Homo sapiens: one gene and its partner. The protein of the gene in region 1 interacts with the protein of each later gene in a pairwise test. Each region holds a gene or a part of one and is shown on either strand. Other genes may lie near its edges.

Region 1 (12,081 bases):
GCCGCGCGATTAGCCGCATCTGGGGGAGGAGGAGCCGCCGGGCGCGCTGGGCCCGGGTGTTTGCGCCCGGATGGGGGTGGGGGTGCCTTAGGCGCTGGAGAAAAACTTCACCCGCGCCCACAGGCCCCCTTTCCGCAGGCTGCGCTGGCGGTTCAGGTTTGCAGGCCGGAAGTGAAATGTTCTTTTTTGATTTTTAAAAAGGAAGCCTCCGGCCCTATGGTTTTCTGGGGTTGGAGTGGATGTGTGTGCTGGGGGAGGCGGAGACGTCCCGCTCCAGGCAGGGCCTTGGGTCTTAATAGGTGGGGAAATCTCTGCCAAATAGGAGGCCTCTCGGAGCCTCAGTTTCCCCATCTGCAGACTGGGCTCTGACTTCTTCTGGCATGAGAGGGTGTGTGAGAGTAAAAGGAGGCAGCTAGCCCCGTGCCGGGAGACACGTAAGCTACTGTTTTTTAACTTGCTGTTTTGATATTTCTCAGTCTCTCTGTGCCCAGTCTTGCTTGCCCCTGTCATTTGCTGCCACTCTGAAGCCAGAGGGAACTTAGAAAAACAATCCGCTTAGATCTACCCCACGCTGAAAATCGTCCACCGAAGTCCCATTGTCGTCTAAGTCCCCAACTTCTCAGCAGGGCTTCCTGTTATCTTCCGCCACTACCTTCTCCAGCCTCTCTCTGCCTCTGTTCTCCCTCCCTTCGGGCCTTTGGCCCTCCTCTGGGCTCGGGGTCCTCCTTGGAGACCCCACCGCCCTCTGCACTCCCTGGGTGGCCTCGGTGATGACCGTGAGTTCTCGATGCTGGTCCCTTCAGGGCAAGAAAGAGGCGCAGAGCCCGGCTGGGAGTAGATGTTTTCAATGAGCTGAGCTAGGCCTGGCGTGGGGCCATGGGGTGGGGTTGAGGGTGGTTGACGGTGGGTCCCCTAGGTAGGGGATCGGTCTTTGTTCCACCGAGTGGCAAAGCCAGCGCATTTGGTTTGTGTTCCATCAGCAGGGGCAGGAATGGGAGGGAAGGTGATTTCAGATGGGCCCGTGCCTGACACTTCCACCATCAGCCGCACTATTGTGGACTGAGCCCGCCGTGCGCTTGGCATTTTCGCGGCACCATCTGCACAGCGTCCGAGCCCTGCGACGCAGCACCGCTCCTGTCCCCTTTGACAGATGAGGAAACTCGGGTGGGGCGGTGAAATCGCCTGGCAGGGGTCACAGAGGGAGTGGGGACCAGTCAGGGCTCAATCTCAGGTCTGAGCCAAAGCCCCCCGAGAATGGAGGGAAGGATGGAGGGATTGAGTGGGGGAGGCGTGTAGAGTAGGGTTCTTGTTGAGAAGGAGGGCTTGGGCTTCCCGCAGGAGGGGCAGTCCAGGCTGAGAACTGGGGCGGGCGCAGGGTCCCAGGTGGGTGGTGGCGGTGGGGTGACCGTCTCCCTGCTGGGTGGGGTCGCCCGTCCGGTCGAGGCCGTCCAGGGGTGCTAATGGGGGCACAGGCAATGGCAATGTTGGAGGCCCCCTTGGGTTCCCGGTACACTCCTCGGGTTTCCGGCCTCTTCCCAGCACTCAGGGGCTCCTGAGGGCGGAAGAGCTATTCCCAGCTTGGCGGGGCCTGGGAGGGGGCTCTGGGCAGACGTAGGCGCCGGGCTGCACCTTCCCTGCCCGCCTGTTTGCACTTCTCTGTGACTGTTGGCTTCAGGTCCTTAGCCAGCGGAGGGCTGACTCCGGCCTGGCTGCCCCCTCCCCTTTGCCTCCCGTCCCTCCCCCTGGACACTCCAACCCCCATCCCTTCGTGTCCCTCCCCCTCCTCTCTCTCTGCTCCTCCCTCGCCAGACCCCCCGCTCTCCCCGGAACAATGGAGGGGAATGTGGCTAGGCCAGCCTGACGCTGCTGCGTCAACCTCTGGCTCGTTCTCGGCCTCTATCGCTTCCAGGGACCCTTCTATCTGGGCTCAGCTGACCCGCCCCGCCTCTCGGCCCACGTGCCGGCAGTTCTCCCAGGCTGGGGCTCAGCTGCGCTGGAGACTGGGATGGGTCAGCTCAGTGTCTCTGTCTGTTTACAAAGGAGGAACCCAGGTGCACTAAGGTAACTTCGCTACTCTGCTAGAGTCTCACCCCGATCCCTGCGCCATTTCCCTTCCACCTCCTGCACTGTTAAGCCTTGGGCTGTGAGATGGGCCAGTGTAGCCCGGCTACTGCCGTGTTCCCTGGGTCAGGGACAGCTGCCTCACTGGGAGCGCCTTAGAAATGTAGAATCTTGGCCAGGAATCTGGAGCCTGTAATCCCAGCACTTTGGGAGGCCGGGGTGGGAGAATCTCTTGAGCCTGGGAGGTCGAGACCAGCCTGGACAACACAGTGAGACCTTGTCTCTACAAAAAATAAAAAAATTAGCTGGGTGTGGTAGCACACGCCTGTAGTCCCAGCTACTTGGGAGGCTGAAGTGAGAGGATCCCTTGAGCCCAGGAGGTTGAGGCTGCAGTGAGCCATGATTGTGCCACCAAACTCCAGCCTGGGTAACAAAGCAAGACCCTGTCTCAAAAAAAATAAAAAAGAAATGAAGAATCTCAGGCCCCACCCCACACCTGCTGAATGGCAATCTGCATTTGAACAAGATCCCCAGAGATTCCTGACTGCATTAAAGTAGGAAGTAGAATCACTGGCTTAACTCTGTGCCTTAGTTTCCTCATCTGTAAAACAGGGCTGCTAAAAGTGCCTCCCCTGTTGGGTCGATGTTTACGTGCATGTAGTTGATGTTTGTAATCCCCCAACAGGGCCTGACGCAGAAGTCTGTGGACAGTGGCTGTAGGGTGTATGAAAGCACTACAGCCTGCCCCATCCCCATAGTGCGGGCCACTACCCACCACACCTGCCAGCAGTGGGCTGGCTCCGGGCTGGAAGCTGCCCCAACACCATGCCCAACCCTGGCCTTCCCCAGCCAGCATCCCATGGAAGGCTCAAGACACCCTCATTTTGCAGAGCAGGCTTGGAGAGGTTCTCGCTTTGCCAAGAGTGAGGTGTCTGACTTGAACTCTTATCCCCCTGCCTTCTATCATCCTGTCTTCAATAAAGGGGCTGAAGCTATTAAGAATGGAATCTCTGGCTGGGCACGGTGGCTCATGCCTGTAATCCGAGGACTTTGGGAGGCTGAAGCGGGTAAATCATGAGAGGTCAGGAGTCCGAGACCAGATTGGCTAAAATGGTGAAACCCCGTCTCTACTAAAAATACAACAATTGGCTGGGTGTGGTGGTACATGCCTGTAGTCCCAGCTACTCGGGAGGCTAAGGCAGGAGAATCGCTTGAACCTGGGGGGCGGGGGTCTGCAGTGAGCTGAGATTGTGCCACTGCACTCCATCCTGGGCAACAGAGGGAGATTCTGTCTCACAAAAACAAAAATGAATGGAGTCTCCTTCAATGAGCTCCCTCTTACTAGAGTGTAAATGGCTGATAGCACTGCTAAAGCCCTCCTTGCAGTAAGCACAGGGCTGCTTGGCTCCCATTGATGTGGGTGGTGGGTTTTCAGGCCAGGAGGGCAGGAAGTTGGGGAGTGGGTAATGGGGGCTGCATGATTGGGCCGTAAGTCTCCAGACATGCGGGCAGGCTGAGCAGGGGCTGGGAAAGCCAGAGTCTTGGTACCCAGCTGAACTCCAGAACCTTCCAGGAGGAGCTGCAGAGCCTACGGAAAATTCCCAGGCTATTTTCGGCCGAGGCCCCCTTCTCCCAGCCGACACACCCATCCCTGGGGCAGTCAGGGTGGGCGTGGCTTCCTGCCCCCACCACCCTGGGCTCCCTCCCTTGGCCGGGCACTCATCAGAGCCTGGGGGCTGACTGGGGAAGGGGGTGCATGGCCAGCTGGGCACCTCCTGGTGCAGCCTCTCCCCCTTACCCTGCTGGCTTTTTCTCCGTAGCATTTCTGCTGTCTGACTTACTCCGTATTTCACCAGGGTCTTTGTTAGCCGGGCGACCCTGGGCAAGTTACTTGACTCTTTGTGTCTCCGTTCTCCCATTAGTGAAATGGGGATAGAATGAGCTGGGCTGTGTGAAGTGTTGTAAAGTAGTAAGCAGAATGGCCCCAGGACACTGCTGTGGTGGTGGTAGTCATGGTCTGTCCCACTCCCTTATCTGTTGGTTCAATAGGAAGTGGCAGAGTTCATCAAGGTCCCCTGTGGCAGCACAGGTGCCCAGCGTGCTGTGCGGTGAGGTGAGGCTCCCCGCTCCATGGACGTGTGCATACAGACGGCAACAAGTTCACGCATGCATACACGTGTATGCGCTCAGATGCAGAGACAGCCATGTGTGGGCACATATGTATGTGTACACATGCGTATATACACAGCACACACATACACATGTGCATACACCTACATACCTGTGCACAAACGAGCACACATGTACATGCAGCCTGGCAGTCATGACACCTTGGTCGTGACATTTGGTCGAAGTTTGTTGCAGGCCAGAAGCTCATCTGAGTGGCGGATCTGTTTGCAGCCTTCCTCCCTCCCCCAGCTGTGGGGAGCTGAAGGCTAGTCACAGAGGGCAGGCCCTGTCTTCTGCTGGGGACACTCCAAGGCCATGCCTGGTATTGCTGGGAGAGCAGTGGCTGGCTGGAAGCTGGGACTGTGCTGGTGGGCGGGGCTGCTGTGTGGCCCCATCCTTGTGTATGTGTGTATTGTGGAGGGGACACAGCAGAGGCTGGCCAGGGCCTCAGAGCTGGCTTCTGGGTGCCTGGTTACCCGCCCCCCAGTTGTTTTCTTTCCAGCTGGACTTTGCCCGGCCCTCCCCCGCACTGAGGCCATTCACTCCTCTCTGCTGGGCCTACTGGGGAGTGAGTGGCCCTTGGCCAGGCCTACTCTGGCCACCCCAGCTTGGCTTCAGCCCAGATGGGCCATGAGAGGCTGGATAAAGCTCCTGGGTCTCCCAGTTGGCACTGCCCCCGCCCCTAGTCACGTCTGCTCCGTGCCTCAGTTTCTTCCACTATCAGGTGAGCAGGAATGTAGCCACCTCCTGCTGGGCTGGGCATGGTGCTGAGTGCACACCAATGCAGTGGCAGCCAGCTGGGGCTTTGGGTCCTAATGCTGGCAAAGAATGAGGCTTGGAAGCTGGGTGTGGTGGCTCACGCCTGTAATCCCAGCACTTTGGGAAGCCAAGGTGCGCCGATCGCTTGAGCCCAGGAGTTTAAGACCAGCCTGGGCAACATATTGAAACCCTGTCTCTACAAAAAATGAGCTGGTTGTGGTGGCACGTGGCCGTAGTCCCACAACCCAGGAGGCTGGGGTGGGCGGATCACCTGAGCCCAGGAGGTTGAGAGGCTTCAGTGAGCCATGATCGCGCCACTGCATTCCAGCCTAGGTGACCAAGTGAGATCCTATCTGAAAAAAAAAAAAAAAAAAAAAAAAAGCCATCCTTGTGGCCATTCCTGGACCGTCTGGAGACCCTGCTCTGTGCCAGTGCCTGTGCTGGGCCCTTGGGACACAGAGGGGCCCTGTGCTGCCCTCAGACTCCTCACCCCTACAGGCCATGAGCTTCCAGTGGCATCTCTGAAGGATTGGGTGCACTTGGGGTGTTGAGGGGGCTTGGGTGGAGAAAGAAGGGGGCCCCCATTTTGGGTCTGTGCCATTCACCCAGGGGAAAATGGGTGTGACAAATGGAAGATGCAAGGAGGACGACGATGGTGACAATGACAGTGATGATGATGATGACGCGGCATGATTCCTGAGCGGGCCCTACCCTTTCCACCGCCTTTCCTGCCTCCCATTCCTAGTCCCCCACCCATCACATGGTTTCCCCACTGGCCTCAGTCCCACCCGGGCCCTCAGGGCCTTTGCACAGGCTGTTCCCTATACCTGGAACAGCCTCCCTCCGTTTTGCAAATGGCTACCCCTTTCTTGCTGTTCAGGGTCCTGCAGGCACCCTGATTAGCGTGTGTATTCCCACCCTTCTCCCCCTATCCCCTTCTGTCTGTTTCTTTACAGCCCTTTTGGGATCTGTAATGATCTGGTTTATGTTTATTTAACTGTTTATTCTCTGGCTTCAAGTTCAGCCCTTTGTCTCTGGGGCCTTGAACAGGGCTCGGTATTGGGCACGTGTCTGTTGAGTGCCTTTATGATGACAATTATAACAACAGTCGTAGCTGACAATTACTGCTCACTGGACCTGGGCGGACAGTGTGCCCAGTGCTTAGTGTGTATTATTTTGTTTTCAGTTCAGCCTGATGGTGTGAAATCGGGACTATTATAATTCCCATTTTCCAGATGTGGAAACTGAGGCCCAGAGAGATTAAGTAACTTGTACAAGACCACACAGCAGGCAAGGGGTAGGATTAGAAGTCAGCTATGCTTCATTAGCCGGGCGTGATGGCGGGCACCTGTAACCCCTGCTACTTGGGAGGCTGAGGCAGGAGAATCACTTGAACCCAGAAGGTGGAGGTTGCAGTGAGCCGAGATTGTGCCATTGCACTCCAGCCTGGGCGACAGCAGGACTCCATCTCAAATTAAAAAAAAAAAAAAAAAAAAAAAAAAAAGTCAGCTATGCTTGACTCCAGGAGAAAGGAGGGAGGGAGACTTTGGATAGAACAAGGCAGGGCAGTGTCTCTAACTGTGGAGTTGCGAGGCCACTGCTCCCATCTGCTGTCCTGGGAGGCCTGGACAGGGCCCTCCCCTCCCAGGGCCAGCCTCTTTCCTGGAACTCTGGGCGTTGAACATTCTAGGACTCTATGACCTGTGCTGGTAGGTCATGCGGGGGCCCTGGCCCCCAGGCCAGCAGCTGGGGCCTTTTTGAGGTGGGGGCTCCCCGGACTCAGGAGTTCCTCCTTGGCCGCGGCTGTAGCTGAGAGAAGGGACAGGAGGTAGGATGCCACCTCCTCCAGAAGGCAAGCCAGCCACCAGCTTCCCAGCCCGACAGAACTGAGGCCCAACGGGAGAGTGCAGCAATGTCTGGGGAGGGGTTCTGACATTTCAGGGATGGGGCATCCCTTCTCCTCTGAGCAGTCGGGCCTGGTTCTTGGGTGGCTATGCTTGAAGGCGGTTCGGGGGGTGCGGTGGGATTTTTGGGTGATGTAGGTTGAAGACTCCTATAAATGAGGGGACTGGGGGGGCAAACTGAGGTTGAAGGTTGTGAGAGCTTCATTTCTTTCCATGAGCAGCTGGAAACCTGGATTTTGAGGAAACCCCCTGGGATGTTTAAGATAGTTCAGGCCGGGCATGGTGGTTCATGCCTGTAATCCTAGCACTTTGAGAGGAAGAGGTGGGAGAATCCGTTGAGCCCAGGAGTTTGAGATCAGCCTGGGCAACATAGTGATACCCTGTCTCTATAAAAAAAAAAAAAAAAAAAAAAAAAAAAAAAAAAAAAAAAATTAGGCATGGAGGTCAAGGCTACAGTGAACTGTGATTATGCCACTGCCCTCCAGCCTGGGTGACAGTGAGACACTGTCTCAAAAAAATAAAAGTTATTTATTTTTTTTTGAGACGGAGTCTCACTCTGTCACCCAGGCTGGAGTGCTGTGGTGTGATCTCGGCTCATTGCAACCCACAGCTCCCTGGTTCAAGCAATTCTCCAGCTTTGGCCTCCCGAGTAGCTGGGATTACAGGCACCCACCACCACGCCCAGCTAATTTTGTATTTTTAGTAGAGACTGGTTTTCACCATGTTGGCCAGGCTGGTCTCCAACTCCTGACCTCAGGTGATCCACCTGCCTCTGCCTCTCAAAGTGCTGGGATTACAGGTGTGAGCCACCGCACCTGGCCCATGCTTCAAATCTAAATTTGAAAACCCCATGGGACCTGAGTCAAACCGATCCAGGGCTGCTGCTGTCCCTCCCGGCTGTGTGGTGTTGAGTGGCGTCCTGAGTTAGTTAGGCTTCTCCCTACTTCATCTCGTACCCCCATCACCAGCCCTGCGCAGGTGCCAAGTGATGCCCACCCAGCTGCCCCACTTTGCAGATTCGGAAACTGAGCCCAGAGATGGGAAAGGACTTACCCAAGGGCCTCTGACTGCTGGACTGTTTCTCTTTCCCCTGAACCTCGAGCTGAGGCCACGTTAGAGCCGACACCTTCATATTCAATGTTCAGTGATTATTGTGTACAGCGAGTGTCCTGCTCTTGAAAAATTGTCAAAAGCACAGCAGCAGCTAGGGAATTCCCGCCCTCCAGCTGGATTTACCGGTACATACTAGGGGTCACAGAAGGAATTTGATTTCATAACAGCGTGGTGACCCGGGCTGTGTGGAAATTCACTGGGCCTGATGGAGCTGGATGCAGCCTTGGAAATTCTCCCTTTCCCTTTGGGCTCTCGCAGCAGGCCCCCCAGTCCTGGGTGCAGGCTTGTGACAGCTGCTCAGGGATCCAAACGTGGCGCTTGAGCTCTCTGCGACGTGTTCCACAGTTCCCTGGAGGCGGACACTGCGTGAGGGTCAGTTTTTGCCCCTGCTTCCCTGTGGTGTCTGGCTCCCAGCAGCGTCAGGGAGGGTCCGTGGAGTGGCTGAGTTTGGATCTAGGTGGTTGGCATTAAAATCTCCCTGGCTTTGGGTTTTCTTTTTTGAGACAGAGTCTTGCTCTGTAGCCCAGGCTGGAGTGCAGTGGTGCGATCTCAGCTCACTGGAACCTCCGCCTCCCAGGTTCAAGCAATTCTCATGCCTCAGCCTTCAAGTAGATGGGATTACAGGTGCCTGCCACCATGCCCAGCTAATTTTTGTATTCGTATTAGAGACTGGGTTTCCCCATGTTGGCCAGGCTAGTCTCGAACTCCTGACATTAAGTGATCCGCCTGCCTCGGCCTCCCAGAGTGCTGGGATTGCAGGTGTGAGCCACTGCGCCCGGCCCCTGGCTTTGGGTTTTCTGCTCACCTTCCTCCTTCCCTCCCACAAATACTATGTGTCCCAAATGTGCCGGGATCCATGCCTTGTGCTGGGGACACAGAGGGGACCGATGCCATCCTGGTCATGGGGGAGGATGTGGCATTTTCATGAAGAGCTATGATCGAGGGGGCCCCACGGTTGCTTCAGGAGCCCAGAGTAGGCATCTGACCCTGCCAGGCGTGCTCCCAGACAAGGTGACAATGGTGCTGAGGTGCCCGAGAGGAATGAGCCTCAGATACTGGACTGTCAGACGTGGACATGGGGGTAAGCACAGGGTCCCTACCTTGCAAGGCACGAGCCCCTGACAGCCTCTTCTCTTTCCAGGTCAGCCATGTCATCTGAGCCTCCCCCACCACCACAGCCCCCCACCCATCAAGCTTCAGTCGGGCTGCTGGACACCCCTCGGAGCCGTGAGCGCTCACCATCCCCTCTGCGGGGCAACGTGGTCCCAAGCCCACTGCCCACTCGCCGGACGAGGACCTTCTCGGCGTGAGTCTGGAGCAGGCTGGGGACGCGTTCTCAGATGGATCTCTTGCCTGAGGCCAGAGATTCACTGTGTCTCTGGCCATTTTTGGGCCTATGTCCCGGACTGCCAAATAGGCAGACCTGGGGCTGGGCCGTGGGCTGAGGGTGAGAAACTAGGAAGGCGCCTTGTAAATTCAGGGTACTGCCCAGCCCAGAAGAACCTGTTACCAGCTGGGAGTGGCAATGGGTGGGCAGTTGCTGGGGTCAGAATCGCTGGGCTTTAACCACACATGAGAGTCTGGTTCCCTGTGAGACTGTGAATTCTGCAGCTGCAAAATGGGCACAGCACCAGGGCTGCAAAGGACCCACATAATGCCTGGCAGATGCAGGTCTCAGGCCTTGCGAGTGGAGGATGCTTGTGTTATTAATAGTAAATCATTAGTTTCTGGAGGGATGTTCAGTGATGTTTTAGTTCAACTCCCTCTTTCCAGGAGGGAAAACAGGCCCGAGAAAATTGGCCAGGGTCATCCAAAGAGTCCTTTCCCCCAGCGTCTTTGTGAGCGGCTCCCAGGGTTGAGGGTTGTGCAGTCCTCAGCCTGTGTGACTGTACATGGCGGTCCTGGCCAGGGCTTGATGGGGCACAGCTGTGGGCAGGGGCTGGAATGAGCTTTGTGTGCCCAGGAGCGCTGATGGGGCCCCTGACATTTCCCCCTCTCTGTCAGGACGGTGCGGGCTTCACAGGGCCCCGTCTACAAAGGAGTCTGCAAATGCTTCTGCCGGTCCAAGGGCCATGGCTTCATTACTCCAGCTGATGGCGGCCCCGACATCTTCCTGCACATCTCTGAGTGAGTCAGCGGCAGGTCTGGGTGGCCTGGCTGGGGTGGGCGCTTCCTTGGCCCTGTGGAGGTGGGGATGGTGTGTGACTCTGATGGGCGCTGGGTGTGAGGACGAATGGCTGGGCCTGTGTGACTCTGCCTGTGGCTGGTGCTCCAGCTGTGCTCCTGTGTGTGTGTTGGGTTGGGGTTGTGAGACTCTACGGAGCTGTGTTGGGGGATGTGAGGCTGGGGGCGACACGGTACTTGTGATTGTCCCTGGGTGTGTCTTTGTGAATGGGTGTGTAAGGTTTTGTGTGTGCTGGGCGTGGTGGCTCACGCCTGTAATCCCAGCACTTTGGGAGGCCGAGGTGGGTGGATCACGAGGTCAGGAGATCCAGACCATTCTGGCTAATGGTGAAATCCCGTCTCTACTAAAAAAACACAAAAAAAATTAGCCGGGCATGGTGGCGGGCACCTGTAGTCCCAGCTACTCGGGAGGCTGAGGCAGGAGAATGGTGTGAACCTGGGAGGCGGAGTTTGCAATGAGCCGAGATTGCGCCACTGCACTCCAGCCTGGGCAACAAGAGCAAGACTCCATCTCAAAAAAAAAAAAAAAAAAATAATGAGCAGGGCGTGGTGACAGGTGCATGTAATCCCGGCTCCTCGGAAGGCTGAGGCAGGAGAATCACTTGAATCCAGGAGGTAGAGGTTGCAGTGAGCCGACATCTCGCCATTGCACTCCAGCCTGAGTGACAAGGGTGAAAGTCCATTTCAAAAAAAAAAAAAAGGATCGGGCATGGTGGCTCACACCTGTAGTCCCAGCACTTTGGGAGGCGGAGGCAGGCGGATCACCTGAGGTCAGGACTTCAAGACCAGCCTGGTGAAATCCTGTCATCACAAAAATACAAAAAAATAGAAAAAAAAAAAAAAAAAGCGGGGAATGATGGCGGGTGCCTGTAATCCCAGCTACTTCGGAGGCTAAGGCAGGAGAATCACTTGAACCCAGGAGGTGGAGGTTATGGTGAGCCGAGATCGCGCCATTGCACTGCAGCCTGGGCAACAAGAGCAAAACTCCATCTCAAAAAAAAAAAAAAAAAAAAAAAAAAAAAAAAAAAACAGATCTGCCCAAGATCACATAGCCAGAAAGTGATGGAAATGGATCTGGGGGTGCCCGACTATGCTTGTGGGAGACAGGGTGGTGTCAGCTGTGCATGGTGCATGTGTGTGAGCAGCAGGGACTGCTGGGGTGAGTCCGAGTGCCCATTATATCTGGCCAAGGACACCCCATGAGGCTGGGGAGCCCTGTTTGGCCTGGGGACCAGTCCAGCTTCCTGCCCTCCTTTGGGGGAGGTGGACTGGTGAGGCTGGGGGCTGTCCTGCCCCTTTGCTCCAGGAAGGAAGTTTGGGGTGGGTCTTTCTCCTCCTGCATGCTTACTGACGTCCTTCCTTCCTGAGTGTCTGAAAACCCTTGGGGAGCCGGGGGTGGGGCGCACACATCCTAGGGCTGGGCTGGAAGGCACCCAGCCCCCCATGCTTCACCTCTGATCCTCTGGGCAGCCTTTAGACAGGGGAGGACCCTCGATCTGCACCCTTGTCCCTACCTGCTTCTTTGGCCTAAGCACCCCCAAGTCTTTTACTTCAGGCAGGGGCAGACAGAGTCCTACTCTGCACAGCATACCCGCTAACACGGAAACCACATTTCTGAAAAGAGGAGCCCACTGCAATGGGGGAGTTACCCCTCCTTTGCCCACCCCCGCCCCATGCTTACCTATCAGATCGGCAGGCAGGAGAATACCAAGGTGACGCATTTCACATATGCATGCATACATGGATGTGTAAGGGTATTTCCATACTGCCTTGTCCCAGAAAGGATTTTGAATCAGTAAGGAAAACATAGAGGTTGGGGCAAAGAAATATTTAGGAAGATGGAAATATTGTGATGTCTGGTTCTGCTGCTGGAAGTAGGCTGCAGATTTAT
Region 2 (12,179 bases), on another chromosome or scaffold:
CTCCTGGGGGCTCAAGCCTCCCATCTCAGCCTCTCAGAGTGCTGAGATTATAGGCATGAGCCACTGCACCTGGCCCCAAGGACATAATTTTTAAAAGAAAAAAGGACATGGTCACAGTATGTGATATTTATGGACCAAAAATAGAAAACAATTTAACACTCAACTTTAACGTAATAGTTAATCAGATTACACCTACCTACTCGGTGACATATCATGTAAGCATATAAAAAGAATTTACTATGCCTTATGTGGCACAAGGAAATGCTTCTAACATAAAATAAAGCAGGACCAGCCAGGCGCAGTGGCTCACACCTGTAATCCTTTTGGGAAGTGGGGCAGGCAGATCGCTTGAGCCCAGGAGTTTGAGACCAGCCTGGGCAACATAGCAAAACCCCATCTCTAGAAAAAATACAAAAAATAGCTGGGCATGGTAGGGCATGCCTGTAGTCCCAATTATGCAGGAGGCTGAGGTGGGAGGGCTATCTGTGCCCAGGAGGTGGAGGTTGCAGTGAGCTGAAATTGTGCCACTGTGCTCCAGCCTGGGGGACAGAGTGAGATCATATCTTAAAAAAATAAAATAAAATAAGAGCAGTACCCACAATTCTATCCACCTATAAATTATTAAACTACACAAAATCAGTAAGCTGATAAAAATTAAACATTAATATGGTAGGATCTTGGTTGACTGTTTTTCAAAATGTTATTTAAATGTTATATTGTTCTTGCAATTCAAGCCAGAAGGAAAAATAAATCCATCTCTATTCTTTCACAATTGTGTATGTAAAAAAATCTCAAACAAATCTACAAAAGAGCTACTAGAATAAGTGAGCTTAGCAAGGTTTATTACAAGGTCAATCTGTAAGTCAAATTTCAAATATTACAAGGTAAACCTACAAATCAAATAGCAATCAAATTTCTATATATCAGCAATGAATGGAAAGTTTTTAAAAGTACCATTTCCTATAGCACTAAAAGCATGAAAAACTTGGCGTAAATCTAACAAAGTATGTGTAGGATCTGTGTTGAAAACTACAAAACACTACATCAGTGAAGTGACATACTGCACTCATGAATCAGAAGACTTGATATTGTTAAGATGTCAATTTTCTCAAACTAATCTATAGATTCTACAGATTTGATAGATCTATAGATCCAAGGCTCTCTCACTCAAAATCTCAGCATGAATTTTTTAAAAAACTTCATAAACTGATTCTAAAATTTATATGCAAAAGCAAAGAAACTAACAATTTTGGAAAAAAGAACAAACCTGGAGGACTCATATTTCAAGATTACTATTAACCAGTAATCAAGACTGCATTGCTGGGCGAGGCGCAGTGGCTAATGCCTGTAATTCCAACACTTTGGGAGGCCGAGGCAGGTGGATCATGTGAGGTCGGGAGTTTGAGACCAGCCTGGCCAACATGGTGAAACCAGTCTCTACTAAAAATACAAAAAGACCGTGCTGCTGAACGAAATTTAGATGTACAGACCAATGGAACAGAATGAGAGTCCAAGAGTCCAGAAATAGACCCACAGTATATGGTCAACTGATTTTCAGTAAAGGTACGAAGGCAATTCAATAGAGAAAATATAGGCCTGGCACAGTGGCTCACACCTGTAATCCTAGCACTTTGGGAGGCCAAGGCGGGTGGATCACCTGAGATGGGGAATTCAAGACCAGCCTGGCCAATGTGGTGAAACCGTCTCTACTAATAATACAAAAATTAGCCAGGCGTGGTGGCACATGCCTGTAATACCAGCTATTTGGGAGGCCAAGGCACAAGAATAGCTTGAATCTGGGAGGTGGAGGTTGTGGTGAGCTGAGATCGCGCCATTGCACTCCAGCCTGGGCAACAAGAGCGAAACTCCATCTCAAAAAAAAAAAAAAAAGAAAGAAAGAAAGAAAGAAAGAGGCCGGGCGCGGTGGCTCACGCCTGTAATCCCAACACTTTGGGAGGCCGAGGCGGGAGGATCACGAGGTCAGGAGCTCGAGAACATCCTGGCAAATACGGTGAAACCCCGTCTCTACTGAAAATACAAAAAGATTAGCCAGGCGTGGTGGCGGGCAACTGCTCGGGAGGCTGAAGCGGGAGAATGGCATGAACCCAGGAGGCGGAGCTTGCAGTGAGCTGAGATCGCGCCACTGCACTCCAGCCTGGGGGACAGAGTGAGACTCTGTCTCAAAAAAAAAAAAAAAGAAAGAAAAAATGGTTTTGTTTTTGTTTTTGTTTTTTAAACAAATGGTGCTGGAACAATTATATATTTATATGCCATAGAAGAATAAGAAACCTTAACCTATACTGCACACCTTGTAGAAAAATTAACTCAATATGGATCACAGACTAAATGTAAAACCCACAACTAAAACACCTAAAAGAAAATTCTAAAGAAAATATTACAGATTTCTTAGATATAAAAGCAAAACCATCATCTATTAAAGAAAAGATTGAATTGGGCTTCAAAATTAACAACTTGTGTTCTTTCTGACACAAGACAAGACACACTGACAAGAGAATAGACAAGCCACAGTCTGGGAGAAAATATTTGTAAATGGCATATCCGAGAAATGGCTTGTACTCAGAATATGCAATCCAGAGGGAAAATAATTCAAAAGGATGTGCAATTAGGGACTACATTTGATGAAAAGGGAGAGGCAGGGAGGGCAGCACAGGGAAGTCAAGCAAACCAAGTTTCTCCTCATTTATGAGACACCTGATACCTTCTCACTCAATTTCAAAATATTTTAAGTCTTCCCTTTTCCTGGGACTAGCTGCTGTTACTTGGGGAGCTTACTTAAGTCTCTTTATGCAGTGACCCCTGAAGGCATGTTAGCTGTGTAGGATCAGTCTTTCCCCAGATCTTGGTAGTAAAAGAAATTACCCATCTCAGTAACTAAGACATTATCCCTGTTAATTCCAAAGAGGGCTCCTTCTCAACAGATACCCCTAGAGTCACAGACAACCAAAAACCAGCTTTAACAGCAGTCCGGGCTGCCACAGCACACAAACAAAACAGCATCTGTGAATCCTACTGGTGGCTACTTCTGAATTAGCTAATTAGGTGTTTCTGTCCACGCTGGAAAACTCAATCAGAGATCTTCACTCAACTCTGTGTGTGTGGAGCCTGCTGGCTTGAGGTGGCCTGGCTGAGTCTCCAAAAGCTGCCAGATTCACACACTCAGCCTCTCTCCCACAGCAAGGACATGCACTATGCTGGGACTAAGTTAATAGCTTGCTTTCTCCTGGACCAATCCTTTGGACTTTTTTTTTTTTGAGACAGAGTCTTGCTCTGTTGCCAGGCTGGAGTGCAGTGGCATGATATCGGCTCACTGTAACCTCTGCCTCCCGGGTTCAAGTGATTCCCCTGCCTCAGCCTCCTGAGTAGCTGCGACCACAGGCACACACCACCATGCCCGGCTAATTTTTTGTATTTTAGTATAGATGGCATTTCACCATGTTGGCCAGGATGGTCTCGATCTCCTGACCTCAAGTGATCCACCCGCCTCGGCCTCCCAAAGTGCTGGGATTACAGGCAGGAGCCACCGCGCCTGGCCTCCTTTGGACTTTAATTGGCCACTGTGACTCCCAGTCCCTCCCCCATGGGGATTTGAAGCCAGGCCTTTTATCAAAGAGCCTAACTTGCTCAGGAACACAGCTACTTTTCCCATAATTGCCTGAAAGGGAAGCACTAGCTATTCAAATGGCCACACCATTTCACACAAGTTTAGGTTTAAAAAAGCATGACAGGGTGACAGCAAAGCCAAAGGCAACTAAGAAGACAAGGAACTGCTCTGCAGAACACTTTGGTTCCCACCAGAAGTCCACACTTACCATAATCACAGGTGGGCTGAGCGCTGGTATCCGAGTATGTCGACTGCAAAGTGGTTTCAGATCCCTGGACAAAGCCTAAACATAAAGACAGTGGGGTTAATTTCCACAAGCAAGTCACAGGGAAATGACCTGAGACTACCTAACCTTTGGTATAGGATTGCCAGCAGGCCCTTCTCTCAACGAAAAGCCACCAAAACCTCTAGATTCCACAGTTTAATTAGACCGTCAGAAAATATTACCCAATGGAAAGGCAGGCTATGTTTAACTTGCTATACCAGGAGGACTAGATTAAAAAATTATTTATTTACTTTTTAAAAACAAGGTCTCACTCTGTCCGGGCTGCAACGCAGTGGCATGATCACGGCTCACTGCAACCTCGACCTTCCAGGCTCAAACAATCCTCCTGCCTCAGCCTCCCAAGTAGCTGAGACTATACGTTCGTGCCATCATTCGCAGCTAATTTTTATACTTTTTTGTAGAGATGGGGTTTCATCATGTTGCCCTGGCTGGTCTTTAATTCCTAGGCTTAAGCAATCCACCCTCCTGAACCTCCCAAAGTGCTGGGATTACAGGTGTGAGCCACAGAGCCTGGCCCCAAATAAAAATTTTTAAACATTTAAGCCAGTAGCCTATTTTGAGAAATGAACACCCAAGTTATCATTCTGTTAAATGAGGAAACTATTCAAATCCCTGAAGGGTGAGCCACTTGGAATTCAAACAAGGATGGAGGTTAGCTTCAAAACCATGTTAAAGCAAATAATACCCCCCTCCCTGTTCTAAATCTGAAACAGAAACTGCTTTTTATTTTGGTTTTCCCATTAAAAAGTGTGTATAACAATTATAACAATTATTTCTGGGCCGGGCAGTGGCTCATGCCTGTAATCCCAACACTTTGGGAGGCCAAGATGACCAGCCTGGGCAACAGGGTGAAACCCTGTCTCTACAAAAAAAAAAAAAAGCCAGCTGTGGCAGCATGTGCCTGTAGTCCTAGCTACTTGGGAGGCTGAGGTGGGAGTGTCACTTGAGCCCAGAAGGTCAAGGCTGCAGTGAGCTATGATTGCGCCACTGCATTCCAGCCTGGGTGACAGAGCAAGACCCTGTCTCAAAACAAAAACAAAAACAAAAAACAATTATTTCTTAAAAGTAATTATTTGGGGTGGCATGGTCATATGGAAATAAGTATTATTATATATACATAAAATTTCCTATCTTCTCAACTTTCAAACTATTTCTCAACATAAAATGAATTAGGGCTGGATGCAGTGGCTCATGCCTGTACTCACAGTACTTTGGGAGGCCAAGGGGGGGTGGACTGGTTGAGGCCAGGAGTTCAAGACCAGCCTGGCCAACATGGTGAAACCCCATCTCTACTAAAAATACAAAAATTAGCTACTAAAAATACAAAAATTACAGGGCACAGTGGCTCACGCCTGTAATCCCAGCACTTTGGGCGGCCGAGGCAGGTGGATCACGAGGTTAGGAGTTCGAGATCAGCCTGGCCAATATGGTGAAACCCTGTCTCTACTAAAAATACAAAAATTAGCTGGGCGTGGTGGTGTGTGCCTGTAGTCCCAGCTGCGCAGGAGGCTGAGGCAGGAGAATCGCTTGAACCCAGGAGGCAGAGGTTGCAGTGAGCCAAAATCATGCCACTGCATTCCAGCCTAGGCGACAGAGCAAGACTCCGTCTCAAAACAAACAAACAAAACCCCAAAATTAGCTGGGTGTGGTGGCACCTGCCTGTAATCCCAGGTTCTTGGGAGGGTGAGGCAGAAGAACTGCTTAAACCCAGGAGGCGGAGATTGCAGTGAGTGGAGATCGTGCCACTGCACTCAAGCCTGGGTAATAGAGCAAGACTCCATCTCAAAATAAATAAATAAATGAAATAAAATAAAATGAGTTAGTGCCAAGTAAGGAAAACTTCTACCTCTATCAGAAACCAGTGCTCCTACAGACTATGACTGATGCTAATCCTGACACTTGCTTTAAAACTACATTAAAAAAAGAAAAAACAACAACTCTACAGTTAGAAATACATATATATTTTTTTGAGACGGAGTCTCGCACTAGGTTGGAGTGCAGTGGCACGATCTCGGCTCACTGCAACCTCCACCTCCCGGGTTCAAGCGATTCTCCTGCCTCAGCCTTCTGAGTAGCTGGGACTACAGGCGCGTGCCACCATGTCCGGCTGATTTTTTTGTATTTTTAGTAGAGATGGGGTTTCACCATGTTAGCCAGGATGGTCTCGATCTCCTAACCTTGTGATCCGCCCGCCTTGGCCTCCCAAAGTGCTGGGATTACAGGCGTGAGCCACTGCGCCCGGCCAGAAATACATATTTTTGAATAATTTTCTCTCAGCACTGAAATTACGACAGATACCATAAGAGGCAGTATTTGCCTTTCCCATCAGAGCCAACTCATGACCTGAAAATTAAAGCCTATGCCTTTAACAGCTTGTTTACATCAAAAACCTACAGAAGTGCCTTCCCCCTGGGTAAGCGTTCTCTTATTTGTTGACAGTGTCTCTATTTTATCTCTTAAGACCACAGCAGCAGCAGCCAACAGCAAACAAGTGCTTTCCCTGCAGGGTGCTAAGAACATTTATCTGCAATGATCTCATTTCATCCTCACCACAGACAATAAGGGCAGGTGGGCAAGATTCCTTACTCTGCAATTCCCCCAGGTCCAAAAGGGTCTGAACACCAAGTGTTTTCTACCAGTGTGGTGCCAAAACTCACGCTGGAGCTGTTTTCACCTGTAAGGACATTTATAATCTTTCTTTGTCCTACTTAGTGCAGAATTAATCTATTTAAATACAAGGTGCTTCCCCAGACCCCACGTGACTTCTCTTAAGCTAGAATTCCAAAATACATCTAGCTCCAAGGGTTCCAAAGACGGAGCTGTGAACCCAGCTTCATCTTCACTTTCCAGAGTAGGGACTGGGACTTGAGGCAGGATAAAACCGAGGGTATACAGATCCAGTCTTCTACCTTCCCTAAGTAAAGAGGCTAGAAATCCATTCAAATGGATTCCTTCCAGGGATCTGGACCTTCCTGAGATGCCTAAAATCCAGGCATTGTTGATTAATAGCTGTCCATAAGAAACACTGAGAGCAGCTTTGAAGAGTTCACCCAGGGGAAAGCCTTATAATGTAAGGAATACCCAGCCCCTGCGGTCTCCACTGTTTGCTCAACTGGCCTCTGGAAACTTGTTCTTTCAGCAATTGGGCCACCAGTAAAATGGCCTCAGACTTTAGGTAATGTGATCTGTGAGTACTGCAACTGCAAATGACAGCCTACCACACCCTCACAAGATACAGTCAGCAAGCTGCTGAGCAAAATATCTGTGTCTGTTCAGGCGAGAGGGGCCCTGGTGCTTCCCTAGGAAGGAAAGACGATCCATCAAACCCTCCAAGATCAATGGCAATCTCTGCTCTAACTCTATACCCTGCACCACATTAACATTCTGTTCCACAATACCATCTGCAAAGATCGCAGAGCAGGCCCTTCTGTAGCCAGTTTTGGCTCCTATTATGAATAATTCTTTTTTTTTTTTTTTTTTTTTTGAGACGGAGTTTCACTCTTGTTGCCCAGGCTGGAGTGCAATGGTGCGATCTCGGTTCACCGCAACCTCCACTTCCCAGGCTCAAGCGATTCTCCTGCCTCAGCCTCCCGAGTAGCTGGGATTACAGGCATGCGCCACTACGCATTTTGTATTTTTAGTAGAGACGGGTTTTCTCCATGTTGGTCAGGCTGGTATCAAACTCCCGACCTCAGAAGATCTGCCCGCCTCGGTCTCCCAAAGTGCTGGGATTACAGGCGTGAGCCACCACGCCCGGCCTAAATTCTTAGCTGGTTTGTAAAGTGTTCTCTTGGTACAATTTATCAGCCTGATTAGCGCTGGTTGAAAAAAATAAAATATGCCCTATATGGCCCTATAAAGCTAAATGTTAGATCACAGATTTCTTTTTTTTTTTGTTTGTTTGTTTTTGAGACGGAGTCTCGCTCTGTCGCCCAGGCTGGAGTGCAGTGGCACGATCTTGGCTCACTGCAAGCTCCGCCTCCTGGGGTCACGCCATTCTCCTGCCTCAGCCTCCTGAGTAGCTGGGACTACAGGCACCTGCCACCACGCCTGGCTAATTTTTTGTATTTTTCACAGAGATGGGGTTTCGCTGTGTTAGCGAGGATGGTCTCGATCTCCTGACCTCGTGATCCGCCCACCTCGGCCTCCCAAAGTGCTGGGATTACAGGCGTGAGCCACCACGCCTAGCCCACGGATTTCTTTCTTTCTATTTTTATTAGAGACAGGGGGTCTCACTGTCATCCAGGCTGGAGTGCAGTGGCACAATCACTGCTCACTGTGGCCTCAGCCTCCGGGGCTCAAGTGATCCTCCTACTTCAGTCTCCTGTATAGCTGGGACTATAGCCACGCACCACCAGGCCCAGCTAATTTTTGTTTTCTTTTTCTTTTTTTGTTTTGAGAGACAGGGTCTCACTATGTTACCCATGCTGGTGTTGAATTCCTGGGCTTAAGCAATCCTCTCACTTTGAGACCATGGATTTCTAGTTCTGCAGCAACACTCCTTGCTTTTAACCAATCTCTCGTCAACTTTTTTTGCTCAAAAATACAAAAGCAGGCCAAATGCTGTGGCTCATGTCTGTAATACCAGTACTTTGGGAGGCTGAGTTGGGAGGATCACTTGAGCCCAGGAGTTCAAGACCTGCGTGGCAACATAGTGAGACCTCATCTCAGAAATAAAAAATTAGCCAGGCATGGTGGCATGCACATGTAGTCACAGCTACTTGGGAGGCTGAGGTGAGGTGGGAGGATTACTTGAGCACAGGAGGGCGAGGCTGCAGTGAGCTATGATTTTGTGCCACTGCACTCCAACCTGGGCAACATAGTGAGACCCTGTCTCAACAAAACAAAACAAATGCTTCTCAGTTTTATACTTTTCCTTTCTCCTTTTTAAAAAAGAGTATATATTTTCTTGAGACAGGATCTTGCTCTGTTGCCCAGGCTGGAGTGCAATGGCATGATCATAGCTCAGCAATGTTGAACTCCTGGGCTCCAGCAAACCTCCCAGTCAGCCGGGCGCAGTGGCTCATGCCCGTAATCCCAGCACCTTGGGAGGCCAGGGAGGGCGGATCACAAGGTCAGGAGATCAAGACCATCCTGGCTAACAAGGTGAAACCCCGTCTCTACTAAAAATACAAAAAATTAGCCGGGTGTGGTGGCGGGCACCTGTAGTCCCAGCTACTTGGGAGGCGGAGGCAGGAGAATGGCATGAACCTGGGAGGCGGAGCTTGCAGTGGGCCGAGATGGCGCCACTGCACTCCAGCCTGGGTGACAGAGCAAGACTCCGTCTCAAAAAAAAAAACAAAAAAAAAATCCCAGAGTCTCGCTGTCATCCAGGCTGGAGCACAGTGGCACAATCATGGCTCACTGCAGCCTCAACCTCGCAGAGCTAACTTTTTTATTTTTAATTTTTATAGAGAAAGGGTCTTGCTATGTTGCCCAGGCTCATCTCAAACTCCTGGCCTCAAGCAATCTTCCTGCCTCGGCCTCCCAAAGTGTTGTGATTACAAGTGTGAGCCACCGTGCCTGATCTAAAAAAAAAAAAGAGTCTTATTTGAAGGAGTAACACAGAGTACCAAAAATTAAAAGATAACTGGAATTAGGTTAGGTTGCCTTCAATCTTTATTATCTGAGCCAAGAGTAGGGTGACAACCATCCTCAAAGATGGTCTCCATTCCTGCCTCTTAACGTTATGTAGATCCCTCCCAACTAATAGAGCTAGCCAGTGCAACCAATAAGATTTATGAAAATGACTGAGTGTGACTTCTGGGATTTTCGCCTTGCTCTTTCTGGGATCATTCAGTCTGGAGAAAACCAGCCACCATGTTGTGAGGATACTCCAGCAGCCAGCCCTAGGGAGAGATCCATGGGGCCAAGAATTATTGGCCAGCATCAGCCTGCCAGGCATGGGAGTTTAAGTCACCTTGGAGGTGGGACCTCCAGCCTCAGTCAGGCTTTCAGATGACTCTAGTCCACATAGAGATCCTAAATGTAACCTCATGATATTCCAAGCTAGAACCACCCAGTGAAATCACCTATCCATTCCAAACATAAAGAAACTGTGTGAGACAATAAATGTTTCTATGACAAGTACAGTAGCATTTCAGACCTTTGTTTGAGGGCCTGATTCTGGATATTTCTGTGCTGTTTACCACTGCTCTCCTCTTCCCCTCTCAGTGCTAGAGATGCAGCTTCCTTTCCCACGTATAAATAAGGTAACAGGGTTCAAAAGCAGGGCGAGTTAATAAAAAGATTTATCAGTCACCTTTTATGTTTAATAATGCTAACATTTGCTTCGAGGCCTCTAGGACTTACCCTTAAAGCTATTAGTTGTCTGAAATGTGAATTAAAATGCCTTTGACTTTAGTGCCCTACTTCTTAAATAAGGGGAAGACTCACATTGTAAATTACTGTGGTTTTCAGTTTATCAAGATAAAGGAAAAACTAATCATTACTTTTTTAGCTTGGCTATCTCAGTGCCCACCCAAACCCAGAACTACAGCCTACAAGACCTAGAGCTGGAATTCAGGTTTGGTCATTAGTGACCTTGTATCTCAGTTTCCTCATCTATTAAAAAAAAGAGCTCCATTACTCAGCTACCCCACAGCACCCAACCATTCATCTTCTGGTTTCTTCAAGAGTCCTGTTTTTAAAAACCATGAAACTGTCTTCCAGTTCTTGGTAAGACTTGGTGAGAATTATATTCCAATCCCAGGGATGTCAGTAACAACCCCATAGTCTTTCCTCCTGAACTAGGAAAGCTACAGAAAGGCTCTGGCAGAGCTGCCCAACTTGGGCACTACTGATGTTTGACGCCAGATACTTCTTTGCGGTAGGTGTCATTGTGTATACCGTAGCAGGGCAGCATCCCAAACCTCCATCCACTAGATACCAGCAGCACTCCCACTCCCATATGTGACAACCAAAAATGTCTCCAGACATTGCCAGATGTCATCTGGGGCAGAATCACCCCTGGATGAGAACCCACTGGGCTGGGGGATGGTTGCTAGAAAAACTGGGGTTCTTGGAAAGCTCCTGACCTGGCAGCCAGGGTAGAGGGGACTGGCACTACCTTCTTGCCTATGCCAACATAAAGTGGTCTACAAAGGAGCCCCACAGACTCACGTTGCATTCTCAGTTCTCAAAATTCCAAGTAGAATGCAGGTTACCTGGCAACCACACACGCTCAAGCCTATAATACCCTCACCAAACAGGGAGGCCTAGTGTAAGTCTCCTGGCCGAGAAGCCTCATCAGTCACTGCCAAGGCAAACCCAGGAGGCCTTGGCAATTCACCCAGTGATGATTTACAGTCGCCCAAGCATATTGCGGGGGGCGGAGAGGGGCTCTCGGATCTGTCACCCACTCTCCCTTTCAAATCCCATTGGCCTCCCACTGGCCTCCCTGGCTGATCTTCTAACAAGCCAGGCAGTTCCTGCCCGTAAGCCTTTTACAGCAAAAGCTCCCTGGGCCAGATATCTTTATTCGCTCCCTCCATTTAGGTCTCTGCTCAAATGTCACCTCTTTACAGAAGGCTCCAACCACTCCACGTAGTGGAGCGACCCCCGCACGGTACTGACCACCCTAAAATATATCCTACACTCGCTTATTTGCCTATTAAGATCCTCGCCTCTAAGCTGCTTGAGGAATTCTTGTCTGTATTCCCAATACCCAGTCTGTACCGGACACGGTTCATTTGACAGACGCAGAGGGAATTAACATGGAACCTTGTCATTCCTTGCAGTTCAGCCCCTAGGGGCCCAAGGCTCCCCGCTCAGCCCAAACCCTTCCAATATTTACTTATCCCCCTAGGGCCTGGCGCCTTTCCCAGTTCTGAAATAGACAAAAGGGGGTGGTGGGTGGGATCGGGATGGGGGTGTAGAGCTGCGGCGTTTTTGCAGAGAAACTGCGCGGGGGAGGACGCGACAATGGCGACGGCAGCCGAGCCTGCTGCCTGCTCGCAAGGACCAAGGCCTGAGAAAGGGAAACCTAAGGCGTCGAGGTCCAGGAGCGCAGGCCAGGGACGGAGGTGGTGGGGGCGGAGACCTCGTGCGCTGAGGCCCGGACCCACGGACACAGGCGACAGAAGCCAAGACATCAGGCGGCCGGGAGCCGGGACGCCGGCTGCAGACACAGAGAGCTGAGGCAACGAGGCGTGAGGGCAGCGACCCTGAGGCGACGGGCCAGCGGCGCCATTTTGTGACCGCAGGGAAGGCAGTGACGGGGCCCCAGGGGAGGTGCGGGCAAGCCTGGTGCGGCATCCGCACGTCCCTGTC

The links.
Region 2: the proteins of CARHSP1 (region 1) and AKAP8L interact in binary tests that used the Homo sapiens proteins (3 or more experiments, as listed by UniProt).

The regions. Positions count from the first base shown.
Region 1 is NC_000016.10:8,856,402-8,868,482, reverse strand, and holds part of CARHSP1 (calcium-regulated heat-stable protein 1), read left to right. Parts: intron 1-81; exon of another isoform or gene 82-434; intron 435-1,054; exon of another isoform or gene 1,055-1,231; intron 1,232-2,040; exon of another isoform or gene 2,041-2,061; intron 2,062-6,748; exon of another isoform or gene 6,749-6,841; intron 6,842-7,909; exon of another isoform or gene 7,910-8,378; intron 8,379-9,147; 5' UTR 9,148-9,154; coding exon 9,155-9,312; intron 9,313-10,010; coding exon 10,011-10,133; intron 10,134-12,081. UniProt on the Homo sapiens protein: Binds mRNA and regulates the stability of target mRNA. Binds single-stranded DNA (in vitro).
Region 2 is NC_000019.10:15,406,690-15,418,868, forward strand, and holds part of AKAP8L (A-kinase anchor protein 8-like), read right to left. Parts: intron 3,906-12,179; coding exon 3,831-3,905; intron 1-3,830. UniProt on the Homo sapiens protein: Could play a role in constitutive transport element (CTE)-mediated gene expression by association with DHX9. Increases CTE-dependent nuclear unspliced mRNA export.